Linked DNA regions of Homo sapiens. The protein of the gene in region 1 interacts with the protein of each later gene in a pairwise test. Each region holds a gene or a part of one and is shown on either strand. Other genes may lie near its edges.

What was found.
Region 2: the proteins of YME1L1 (region 1) and BCL11A interact in a two-hybrid assay, tested with the Homo sapiens proteins (one large-scale study listed by BioGRID and IntAct).

Annotation. Positions count from the first base shown.
Region 1 is NC_000010.11:27,144,147-27,147,983, reverse strand, and holds part of YME1L1 (ATP-dependent zinc metalloprotease YME1L1), read left to right. Parts: intron 1-315; coding exon of another isoform or gene 316-486; intron 487-2,393; coding exon 2,394-2,556; intron 2,557-3,837. UniProt on the Homo sapiens protein: ATP-dependent metalloprotease that catalyzes the degradation of folded and unfolded proteins with a suitable degron sequence in the mitochondrial intermembrane region.
Region 2 is NC_000002.12:60,466,526-60,470,362, reverse strand, and holds part of BCL11A (BCL11 transcription factor A), read left to right. Parts: intron 1-1,529; coding exon 1,530-1,631; intron 1,632-3,837. UniProt on the Homo sapiens protein: Transcription factor. Associated with the BAF SWI/SNF chromatin remodeling complex. Binds to the 5'-TGACCA-3' sequence motif in regulatory regions of target genes, including a distal promoter of the HBG1 hemoglobin subunit gamma-1 gene.

The DNA.
Region 1 (3,837 bases):
GCCTTGGCTCACTGAATGGTAGAAAAGTTGCTGTGATGTCATGCCAGGGTAACGTGCTAGAAATCTGGGAAGTCTGCCCTCTAGGATACTGGGAAAAGCTGTTCCTGGGGATGTGTCCTACTAGAGAAGCTGTTACACGAGTGGTGCCAGGGGAAGCTGCTAGGTCCTGCTGGCCATTGTGCACGCCAGGAGCCAGGGTTTGGTGAAACTGCACAATTGACAGGAGCCAGATGCTATAGAAACCACGGGTGTTACAGACAGGAACTTGCTAAATGAGCATACCACAACCAGGAATCAAAACCTCTCTTCCTACAGTGTATGTTCAGTGACTTCCTGACGAAGCTTAACATTGTTTCAATTGGCAAAGGAAAAATATTCGAAGGGTACAGATCCATGTTCATGGAGCCAGCAAAAAGGATGAAGAAGAGCTTGGACACAACCGATAACTGGCACATCCGTCCAGAACCCTTCTCCCTCTCAATCCCTGTACACTGCGGGTTTCTCCAAATGCCTATTGTCTATGATTTGTTTTGTCCATCGTTCTTAGTCACGGCTTAGTTCAGGTTCTTGCCATCTTTCACTTGTTCCATCAGCCTTCTCTCTCATCCAGTCTAGTTTCTTTGTTTGTTTGTTTTATCATTTTTAAATTTTTTGTAAAGACAGGGTCTTGCTTTCTTCACCAGGCTGATCTCGAACTCCTGGCCTGAAGCAGTCCTCCCACCTCAGCCTCTCAAAAGTGTTGGGATTACAGGCTCGAGCCACCATGCTAGGCCAGTCTATCTTCCTTAGTTCTCCATTTTCTTCTATAAGACAGAACTAATCATGTTACTTAGAGAATTAAATTCAAACATGGCTCTTCACAGTTTGGCCATAACCTATCTCTTTAATTTTTTCTTTCCTTGAATTTTTTGAGATATTCCAGACCCTTGGATGGCTTTTTGTTTGCCCCCGTCCCTAAGCCGCCTTGATCATTTTTAATAGCTTAAAAAGTACTTTTAAGTATTTTATTTCATCATGCCTTTAACTGTCTTTTACTATGTGCTGTCATGTTGTATGCTAGGATACGTAGATGAGTAAGGCATGATCTCTGCCTTTGATCCTTACTATTAGGAAATAAGGTGTATTTTATAGTTATGTTAGTATTGAGAAAATGAATTCTAAGAATATGAGTTATAGCTAATTTAAAAAGTACCGTATTCCCAGACATCAGTCCAGAGCTATATAATCCGTGTCCATGCCTCTTTTAAAAAAAACTTTATTTTTAGAGACAGGGTCTCCCCTTTGTAGCCCAGGCTGAAGTGCAGTGATGCTGTCATAGCTCACTGCAACCTCCAGCTCCTGGGCTCAAACATTTCTCCTGAGTAGCTGGTGCTGCGGGTGCATACCACCATGCCCAGCTAATTTTTAAATTTTTCATCAAGATGATGTCTTACCATGTTGCTCAGGCTGGTCTCAAACTCCTGGCCTCAAACGATCTTCCCACCTTAGCTGTTTTGGGTTTGAGTAACATGTAATTGTTACTTGCCTTTAAGTGCCTCTCTTTCAGCTCATGTGGACAAGAAAATAATCCCTATCCTGTTGTTTAAAAGTGGGTATACACACATTTTTGTGATTTTTAGACTTTTTTGCCTGATTTTCACACAGTTTTGACTTTAATTTTCTTCTTTATTAGAAGATATGGGTAACTTTAGAACCTCTGAGTTCAAGGAAGGATCTAAGCAATGAGGCCAGAGGAGTGAGATGTCCTATGGTAACCAAGCATACCATTTCTTTGTCAAGTGGGCTTTTGTTTATGGCTGCTTAGGGGCTTAAAAGCTCCATGGACTGGTGAGGATTATCATTTGAATGGAATTTCCCCAATTCAAGAACCTTACTATTATCCTCCAATCAGTTCTACACTGTTGGGGAAAATCCCCTGGACCTTATATAACATACTTTGTAACCCTGCAGTTAGTTACTCTTACACTCTTGTCATTATAAATGCTTGATCAATAGTTGATAGACTAGCTCTTGATCAGAGTACCCTTGTATGGAGAGAAGGAAAAAATGCCATACATTTCACTTGATTCTGTGAACCATAATGCTTAGGACAGTAGTGGTTTGGGTTTGATTTAAAAAAAAAAAAAGTTTTTCTCATTCATGCTGAAATGTCATCTCTTTATTTAAGGATACCATTAGGAATATAATTTTTTAACCTATGTCAAACCTCATATGACTGATCTCAGTAAAACGAACTGTGAAAATATTTGCATCAATTTATTTTTAAATATTAAAAAAAGGAAATATATTTGTTAGACTTTTAAAATCTGATTGTTTTAACTGATAATATGTACTCCTTAGGTTAAATATCTTGATAATATTAATGCATACCTGGTTGACCCAATCTTTTACAGCCTTCACTTAACTTAAGGGACCTTGGATTATCTGAACTAAAAATTGGACAGATTGATCAGCTGGTAGAAAATCTACTTCCTGGATTTTGTAAAGGCAAAAACATTTCTTCCCATTGGCATACATCCCATGTCTCTGCACAATCCTTCTTTGAAAATAAATATGGTATGTTAATGTGTTTTTTGTTCCAATTAAATATTTTAGCACTATTAATAATTATAGATACCATTTCTTAGCTTTCACAGTAGCGTTTATTGTGGGCTGGGTTCTTTCCTGAAGTGTTTTTTTTTTGTTTTTTTTTTTGCAATTTTTCATATTGAAATAGTACCAGATTTACAGGAAAGTTGCAAAGATAGTACAGAATTTTGCTTCCACTAATTTTGGCATCTTACATAATCATGTTACATTTGTTAAAACTAGGAAATTAACATTGGTACAATAATTTTTTTTTTGAGACGGAGTCTCCTTCTGTCAGCCAGGCTGGAGTGCAGTGGCACAATCTCCGCTCACTGCAAGCTCCGCCTCCCGGGTTCACACCATTCTCTTGCCTCGGCCTCCCAAGTAGCTGGGACTACAGGCGCCCGCCACCACGCCCGGCTAATTTTTTGTATTTTTAGTAGAGATGGGGTTTCACCGTGTTAGCCAGGATGATCTTGATCTCCTGACCTCGTGATCCACCCTCCTCAGCCTCCCAAAGTGCTGGGATTATAGGCGTGAGCCACCGTGCAGGCCTAACATTGGTACCTTATTTTTAACTAAACTACAGACTATTTGAATTTCAACAAAATTTGTTTTCACCAAATCACTAGTTCTCTGCAAGTGTCCTTTTTCTTTTCCAGGATCTGATCCAGCATACCACATTGCATTTAGCAGAATGGGGGGGCGTTGTTTGTTTTAATTTTAGGTGACACACATTTAATTCCAGGAAACATACTTAATCTTTGAGAATACATTGATTAAAAAAACAGTTGTTATCCCTTTTGTGGAATGTCTACATTTTTTTTTACTTGAATCTCATAACAGTATGGTAGTATAATAAGTGGGTTCATACTAGTCTGAAAAGGGATGTCAACTTTATGAGTTTTTCTTTGGATGGCACTTAAACAGGCCATAAAAATCCAGGAACAAAATAGCAGGTTTGACTAGTTTATAATGAAGGTTTGATTTGAAGCTGTCCTTTGCATAAACTTAATTCATTAATTCTTGACCCTTCCTTTGCCTTTATTTCAGTGTAAGGGCATAAAAAACCGTAAGTGTGAGGAAAAAATGAAATGGTTTTGAGCTTGGGGGCTTAGACTAAAAGTTTGCCTCTGCCTAAAGTTGCCTTCTTATAAAATATTTGGCCCATACCAAGTGTTCAATAGAATAAAATTCTTTTTGTTACTATGTTATTATGATTATTCCTACTGCTCTTCTAGTCTGCATATTTACATTTACTCTTAAGAT
Region 2 (3,837 bases), on another chromosome or scaffold:
TAATTTTACGCCACACTCTCAATTCACTTGACGTAAACAGTCAAATGTAGACATACTTGTTTGTTAAGTCCGGTCTTCCTGCTTGTGTTGGTTCACTTTGTGGTGTTTATTTTGTTTTGGGTCAGAGAGGATGAAATGTCTCTGTAGATGTTCTCAGGCTAGGTGGTGCTTCCACCAGGGCTTCCCTCTGCAGGCCTGGTAACAGCAGACCTATGCTGTCTGTGTAAGAGCCTTCTCAGCAGCACACCATCGTTACCCACCAGGCTCCTTGCGAAAGGAAATCTTGTCCCAACTGCCTTGGCTGTGCTTGGCAGTGTGCTCTATATAAGGAGAACAGGATGTATTTTACACTTGAGACCTGCTATCCTAGAGTACAACAACAACACTTCTAAGTGCTCTTAATATTAAGCTAATGGAAAACATACTGTTTGTTCACCATCAAAGTCTGTTTTTCTTGTCTCCCGCCCTCCCCAATCATCATGAACTCCAAACCTCTAGAACACACAGAGCGTCTCCTGCACCATCTATCCTCCAGTCTGTCTCAAGATGGACAGCTACATGGTTAGTTAGCTAGAGGAGGACTTGGAAAAGCTAGGCACTTACCACATAAACCGTAAAATCCCCAGATTGCACAAACCAAATTTTCCTCTTCTCAAAAAAATCTCAGTGCTACAAATGTTTCATTGACTATTAGATTCATTTTATTAGTGTGAGAAGTCACTTGTCTTCACCAGAGTACAACAAAGTGCAGTAAAATGGTGAAGATGGGTCAGGGTTTCTGGGTGCTGGCATTATTGGAATGCTGGTTCTTTCCTTGTCATTTAATGGTCAAAGTTATTTGGACCCCAGAAGTCTAATCTTTATCTTCCATTGCTTTGTATTGTGAGAAGCCACATCTGTGTAAGGTTTCCAGTTGACAGGATTCTAGAGTATGGCCCAGCTCAGTCCAGAAATGCCCAGGTTTCCCCTATCACTGAAGGCGCTATCATAAATATAGCATGGGAAGAGGGGGGCAGAGGGACAGAGAAAGCAAAGTGGGACTCTGTCCCATAAAAAACGATTCACAAATCTACTCATTTCCTATCAGCATTTTGCTTTTTGCTTGGGTTTGTCTATAAAGTAAAGTTAATGTATGCATGTAAACCAGCCTTGCAGATAAAATCCCCCCATGTTTCCAGGCTACCCACAATATTACCAGTTTTCCCCTTGCTGCTTACACATCTTCTTTCCACAAGACAATAATCAAACAACAACAAATAAATAAGCAAATGAACCAAAGACCACCTCTCCCCTTTCCTAAAACAAACCCTTTCACTTTTGTCAAAAAGACCGAAATTGAAAACAAAACAGAAACTCTGGGAAATAACTCACCACTCTTCTTTTGTTTCAGGCCTTGGGCCTGTTAACTATCTGCAAGGCTGTTGTAATGATGTTGTAATCTATTTTAATGGAATTGAAATGTGATATCCTGTGGTTTATGATGCACGTTGTTTGTAGCTGTAGTGCTTGATTTTGGGTTTCTTTCACAGATAAACTTCTGCACTGGAGGGGCCTCTCCTCCCCTCGTTCTGCACATGGAGCTCTAATCCCCACGCCTGGGATGAGTGCAGAATATGCCCCGCAGGGTATTTGTAAGTTGAGCCTTATTTCTTCTACAAATGTCCATGTGTATAGAGATGAGAATTTCTGGAAATTGCCCTTACTTTTTAAGTACTGAAGGAGTTACTTCCAAAATAGATTGTCATATGTATTATTCCATTACTCACTTGGCAGCCGCTCCCCACTCCACTCAGCCCCAGAGGGACTTCTTCCCTCCCCTTTTTCTTTCCTCACTGGAGGCTGGGAGCTGATAGTAGCTCATCCCTGTGGGTCTTCTCCCCAGGGTCTTGTCTTGCTCCGTGGCTAGTGATTGAAGATGCCTGTGCCTCTGGAGCCCATTTTATTACTGGACATTCACTCCTGTGGCCTCATTTAGGACTTTGGGTATAGTCCATGGCACACATCTTTAGCCAAGGCCAGAATCAAAAGGAGTCAGTTTAGGGTTATTCCAGAGTTATTCCAATGCATATTCCTTATGTATTTACATGTGTATTTGAACATAGTATATGTTGTATATTCATGCCCACACATAATTTTGACTAATTTTTCTCCTGGTTTTAGAGAAAAATGCACATCATTGTAGTTAAAATGTGAAGGCTCTACTATCACCACCACCACCACCACCATCACCACCACCACCACAACCACCACTGCCACCATCACCACCACCACCACAACCACCACCATCACTACCACCACCACCATCACCACCAGTACCATCACCACCATCACCACCACTACCACCACCACCACCATCACCACCACCACCATTACCACCACCATCACTACCACCACCACCATCACCACCAGTACCATCACCACCACCACCATCACTACCACCACCACCACCACCACCATTACCACCACCATCACTACCACCACCACCATCACCACCAGTACCATCACCACCAGTAGCATCACCACCACCACCACCATCACCATCACCACCAGTACCATCACCACCAGTACCATCACCATCAACACCACCATCTCCACCACCACCATTACCACCACCATCACTACCACCACCACCATCACCACCAGTACCATCACCACCAGTACCATCACCACCACCACCACCATCACCATCACCACCAGTACCATCACCATCATCACCACCATCACCACCACCACCATTACCACCACCATCACTACCACCACCACCACCATCACCACCACCACCATTACCACCACCATCACTACCACCACCACCATCACCAGTACCATCACCATCACCATCACCACCAGTACCATCACCATCATCACCACCATCACCACCACCACCATTACCACCACCATCACCACCACCACCATTACCACCACCATCACTACCACCACCACCATCACCAGTACCATCACCATCACCATCACCACCAGTACCATCACCATCATCACCACCATCACCACCACCACCATTACCACCACCATCACTACCACCACCACCACCATCACCACCACCACCATTACCACCACCATCACTACCACCACCACCACCATCACCACCACCACCATTACCACCACCATCACTACCACCACCACCATCACCAGTACCATCACCGCCATCACCACCACCATCACCACCACCACCACCACCATCACCACCACCACCACCACCATCACCACCAACACCACCATCACCACCACCACCACCACTACCACCACCATCATCACCACCACCACCACCACCACCACTGCCACCACCATTTACTTGTTCAAGTGAGCTTTTATAGTAGGGACCATTTTATGAAACTTAAATTTGTCCATTTATACAAATGTTTTCTGAAAGATACTGTTTTAGAAAATAATACAGTTTGCTTCTCTGTGTAGGAACACATGGTATGAATCATGCATGGCTAAAAGGTTAGGGGGTGGGCAGTGATTCCACCCTAAACACAAAAAAGCAGGTTCAAGAAGAAAAGAAGTGTGACATCTAATTTTTATTTGAAAGTAAATGAAAAATAACCTGCTGTGGAAAGAAAAAAAAAGAAAAGGAAAAAGGTCATGGAGAGAGAATAACAAAGAGCAAGATGCCAGAGTTAAGGCTCTAAGGGGGACTGTTTTTAGATGGGAGGGAGATGACACTTACCCATCTTGTAAATGGTATCTGAAGAGCAGGGCATGCACCCTGAGACCAGATTCAAAGCCAGTTGTTTATTTTTGTTAACTCCTAGGTAATCCTAGGTAACAAAGAGTTATTGTGTGAATTTCATAAGCCCTCAGGTCCTGAGGGCTGGGTGG